Linked DNA regions of Homo sapiens: region 2 is linked to region 1. Evidence: fine-mapped expression QTL. Tissue or cell type: aorta. Region 1 holds a variant in brackets; the other region holds the start of a gene. All regions are shown on one strand. Distances are between the middles of the regions.

The links. PIP is the estimated chance that this variant, and not a neighbour inherited with it, causes the effect. A credible set is the group of variants that fine-mapping cannot tell apart.
Region 2: IRX2 starts here. The variant in region 1 is the best candidate, but not a certain one, in a credible set for the expression of IRX2 in aorta (GTEx, PIP 0.56).

Annotation. Positions count from the first base shown.
Region 1 is chr5:2,095,008-2,097,761 of GRCh38, reverse strand. It overlaps LOC105374618 (a long non-coding RNA gene), which reads right to left. Exons shown (of 13, transcript NR_171679.1): 8 at 1,120-1,236; 9 at 1-523. Among named protein-coding and RNA genes, the nearest start is that of CTD-2194D22.4, 210 kb to the right of the region's middle. The variant T/C (reference allele first, on the strand shown) is at 1,680.
Region 2 is chr5:2,750,459-2,752,958 of GRCh38, reverse strand. IRX2 (iroquois homeobox 2) reads left to right here and starts at 1,282. Exons shown (of 4, transcript NM_033267.5): 1 at 1,282-1,794. The coding sequence starts at 1,546. It overlaps IRX2-DT (IRX2 divergent transcript), which reads right to left and starts at 1,066. Exons shown (of 4, transcript NR_122126.2): 1 at 495-1,066; 2 at 205-279. RefSeq lists an enhancer at 243-1,167.

The DNA of each region.
Region 1 (2,754 bases):
CTGGATATCCTCGCACTCTGGATCCCCTGTGTGGCAGAAGTCACAGATCACCCAGAACAGGGGAACCTGCATTTTTCTAGCAAATTTGCTATTCCTGCCAGGTGAGCATCCTGCCAGGTGAACATCCTGCCAGGTGAGCATCCTGCCAGGTGAGCAGGTGCCTTCTCTGGCAGATCAATGGCAGCCTTGTGGCTTTCCAGCACCCATCGCCCCCTCAGCCCACTCCATTCTATCACAGGAAGAGCAAATCACATTTTGGGAGATGCTTGGTACCATAGAGGGCATCTCCTTAGGCACAGGTGCTAGGACAGTGCGCAGGGTCACCTGCGGCAGAGCCCACCATGGACCCCCTCCTCTTCTTGGCCCCACAACACCTCATCACAGGTCCTGAGGTCCTGGGAGATGCAGACCCTGGCTTTCCAGCCACGGCAGCACTCAGTCACTGTAGACGTGGTCGCCAGGGGACGAGGTCACAGACATTCTTTTGGTGTCGTCCGCTGGAGATATGATCACATGCTCAACCCTGAAGCAAGAGAAACAAACTGAGAACAGAATTGGAGGCGGGAACGGGGAGAGCCGCTACGATCCACCAGCTCACCTGTGGAGAGAGAACCAAGGAAAAACAGTATTGATTTTTTTTACAAGCCAGTGCACAGATTTGTCAGACAAAAGAATAGAGATGTCAACCCCTGGACCCGCTCTCCAGCACGGCAGGCCTTCAGGCGGCCAGAGCCAAGGCGGCACTCCGCGACTCCTGCACTGGCTGCAGAGGGGATGGGCAGTTTGATGAAAGAAGGAAACGCCAGCCCTCGCACGGATATGCGTGTCAGTAACTCCCACCTGAGCAGAGCTCAGAGATGCTTCCAGCACAGCCCAAGAGAGGTGGCTCCCTGGTCTCAGCATCTGCCGAGGTTACCTCTCTCCTCTGGGGGCTGTGGGAGGCGCTTCTGCACGGGGTCACAGGAAGGTTTTGGATGTTTACCTGAAGGGCGGTTCTGTTAGAAAACTCCAAAACCAACGGACATTTTAGATTTCAAAGAGAATCCAGTACAACGTATTTTCATCTCCTAACCCAACAAAAGGGAATCTGAGCTGATTATTAGAAGTTTACTCTTTTACCTGGCAGGGGGCAAAGAGCATAGACATCCCCAGGTCTCCAGATGCACAGGTGGAGGAATTCGTCCACTAACGCACCCTCGGAACAAACACCTGAACACACAGGAAAACTCGGTGTATCTGGAGAAGGAATGTGTTCGTTAATTGCATTTTTGAATATCTAGCTAAGCACAACATCCCTTTAGAGTCCACCTGTCCTTTAAAATTCTTTCTAAAATAAATCTGACAATTTTCCTGATCTGCCATGCTGAATAGTTTGACGACATTGATCATTTGGGGAAATCGTGGCTGTCAGAGGCCATTCAGAAAATAATATTATGAGGATGAAGGACCACAGGTAGGGAGCCCCATAGAAGAGTTGGAACTGCTTCATTTTTGTGTTTACTCCTTTATTCAGGCTTGATAGGTTTCTCTGAGTTTTACCTTCCTCTTTCTAAGAAGGAAACTGCTGTCATGTAATTTAAAGTTCCCGTTGGTCATTTCTAATGAATAAAAGGTTACGAATGTCGAGTAGTAGTTGGGTGCCATGTAAACTAGTTCAACCATTGTGGAAGTCAGTGTGG[T/C]GATTCCTCAGGGATCTAGAACTAGAAATACCATTTGACCCAGCCATCCCATTACTGGGTATATACCCAAAGGACTATAAATCATGCTGCTATAAAGACACATGCACACGTATGTTTATTGTGGCACTATTCACAATAGCAAAGACTTGGAACCAACCTAAATGTCCAACAACGATAGACTGGATTAAGAAAATGTGGCACATATACACCATGGAATACTATGCAGCCATAAAAAAGGATGAGTTCATGTCCTTTGTAGGGACATGGATGAAGCTGGAAACCACCATTCTCAGCAAACTATCGTAAGGACAGAAAATCAAACACCACATGTTCTCACTCATAGGTGGGAATTGAACAATGAGAACACATGGACACAGGAAGGGGAACATCACACTCCGGGGACTGTTGTGGGGTGGGGGGAGGGGGGAGGGATAGCATTAGGAGATATACGTAATGCTAGATGACGAGTTAGTGGGTGCAGCACACCAACATGGCACATGTATACATATGTAACAAACCTGCACATTGTGCACATGTACCCTAAAACTTAAAGTATAATAATAATTTAAAAACAAATGGGTGGTCAACATTCTAACCTCTAAAATAATAGTTTCTGACAATACGATTGCTACATTTTTGAAAATTATCATAGCTAGGTCATCATACTTGGCATATACTCAAGTATGTTCTTTCATGTACATTTCTTAAACATGCATGTGTCTCCTGTGACATTTAGAGAAATGTCTCCTTAGACGCAATATTTCAAACATTAGAAAGTGCGGTCGCCTAAATTGCATTCACAGAGCTCCCTCGGCGGGATTCCTGAGTGCGATCCTGGGCGATCCCCCCACCGCGGTTTCTGGAAGACTCTGATGAACGCATCCACCAATGGGTGGGGAAATGAGGTCAGCATCCTGTGGTTCAAGGATCCTAGGATCAGTGACTGGGAGTTACAGGTTTGGGCATCACTCAGCATAAGTGGCTGTGAAACCCTAGGGCAGCGTCCCCTCTGAAAGCCCATCTGCTCGGACATGAAGTGCAGAAACTTGGGGTGAGTTGGGACACAGCTGGCTGC
Region 2 (2,500 bases), 660 kb before region 1:
CCCTGAGCGCCCCCCATAGGTGACCCTTCGGAGTGGGCAGCCAGACGCCCTCTTCGGCCATCCCCGAGTGGAAAAGGGTTGGAGAAGCGTGATGGGGAGAGGGTTCTAGGAAGCTGGGGTCCTAGGAACCCTCGCCAACCGCCTCGCTTCTGAGCCCCGCAAGGCAACCGCCCCCCTACTCCAGCCGCGCGTCACCTGAGCTACCTGTAATGCCCACTGCACCGGCGGCGCCAACCTGAGCTCCTGCCCGTTCTCGACGTGACTGGGAGGCTTCAGGTCCTGCCAGAGGCGGTTTGTCAGGTAACAATCATCCCCCCAGTGTTTTGACAACACAAATCTGAAAGAGGAGTCAACTTAGAAAAACAAAATAAAATAAAACTCTTTAGGGGACGGCGTCTTCTTAGCTGAAGCCCTGGCGTCATTCCCAACAGTGGAAAGTCGTAACGTTCAGGGCCCCGGGGGTTGCGCTGCGGATTTGGGGGCAGAAAGCTCACCTCAGGGCCCTCCTGGCAATTCGCAACCAAGGCGCCCCGGATCCAGGTCCATGCTGGGCGGAGTGGACCGCGAGGGGTAGGCGACCAGACGCGAGGCCACGCGGGGAGCCTCGGGCCAGGAGGCAGAGCAGGTCCGGGACCGTGGAAGTGAGAGCCGCGCGCACTGCCCGGAGGAAGACCCGAGCCGCGGGCGCCACCATCCTGACCTCCCCACTTCCCTGCGACTTCCGGATTGGACACAGGGGCCGGGCCTCCTCGGGGTGCACAGCGGGGCAGGCTGTGAGTCCCCTAATTGGACCCGGCCTGGCCTGACCGCGGGCGGCCTCTGCCTAGTCCGTGAGGGTGGAGAAGGGGGTGGGGGCGGGGTAGTGGCTGGAAGGGGCGGGGGCCGGGCAGGGGCGAAGACGGTGGCCGGGGACGGTGGGAGCCGGCCGGAGCCGGGCAGGGGACGTGGCTCCGAGTGGATGGGAGTGGGAGGGGTGCGCGCCGGGGCACGCAGCGCGGCCGGGCTGGGCTGCAGGTCCGCGAGCCGCGGGCTGGGGCCGGAGCTGCTAGAGAGGCGGCTGCGCCACAAAAGCCTGCCGGTCCCTCCCGCCGCCCGCCTCCGTCGCCTCCGCCCTCCCCCGCCTCCCTCCCGTCTCTCTGCCCCTCCCCCGGCCGCGGCCCGGAGGCTGCAGCGGGCGGAGCAGGGGAGGGGCGGGCCCCCGAATATGCAGATGAGCGCGTGATGGACAGCTGCGCGTTCCAATGTCCCTCGGAAACTCGAGCGCTCCTTCCTCAACTCCTCACTCCCGACTCCAGACTCCCCCAAACCCCGACCGCCGGCCTGGCGCGCGGCTGCGCCCACCGGCTCCGCGCTGCTGCCGCCGCCACCGCCACCCCGCCGCCGCCCCGGCCCGCGGGCCGCCCAGGCTAGTACCCGGGCCGGCCTGCCTCCGCCGGCCGTCCGGGTGCCCGCCGCCGCGCCGCGCCCCGGCCGGGCGTGGATGGAGGGCGCCGCGCGCCCTGCCCGCTGCTCGGCGTGACGCGGGCCCCGCGCCCCGCGCCCACCATGTCCTACCCGCAGGGCTACCTGTACCAGGCGCCCGGCTCGCTGGCGCTCTACTCGTGCCCGGCCTACGGCGCGTCGGCTTTGGCGGCTCCGCGCAGCGAGGAGCTGGCGCGCTCGGCGTCGGGCTCGGCGTTCAGCCCCTACCCGGGCTCGGCGGCCTTCACGGCGCAGGCGGCCACCGGCTTCGGGAGCCCGCTGCAGTACTCGGCCGACGCCGCCGCCGCCGCCGCCGGCTTCCCGTCCTACATGGTAACCGGGCGCGGGCGGGACGCGGGACTCCTGGGCGCCGGGACCCAGACGGGGCTCAGGCGGAGCGGGGCTCGGGTTCGGCGGGCGGGGGCCGCCGGGAATGTGGCGCGGCTGGCGACTCAGGAGTCGCCGGCTCGGTTGGCCGCCCCGCAGGCTGAGCCGGGCCCCGGGTGGGGAGGGCAGCGCGGCAGGCGGGGACGTCCCTGAGCCCGGCCGGGACCCGCGCGCCCCCCGCGCGTCCCCTCGGCTCGCCGGCTGATTTTCTCTGAGAGCCTGGGAAGTGCGTCTCCGCCGGGGCCGGGGTCTGGCGCCGTTTGTCCCTGGTTTCCGCACCGCAGCCTGGGGAGGCGTTCGGAGCGGGCTGTGTGCTCGCCTGCATTGGCGTGGGGCGCGAGGGTCCGCGTCACTGCGGCCTCTGAGCCGACGGCCGGGCGGTTCGCATTCACTCGCGGGGCTCAGGGCGGTGGGGGTCACCGAGTTAGGCCCAGGAGCCGAGCATTCAGCTGCGGCTCCGGAGTCCGGCCCGAGGCGCCCAGGTTTCGGCCTTACTCTGTCCAGCGGACCATGCTTTCAAATATCGTGCTTGCGGGCGCGTGACCCGCTAAGGGCCGCCTGAGTCCTCCGTGGCCCGAGCGCAGCTCCTGCTCCGGCGACCTGGGGGCGGCTCGCGAGTCTCGAGGTTACTGAGCTGGGCCAGGCCCGGGCC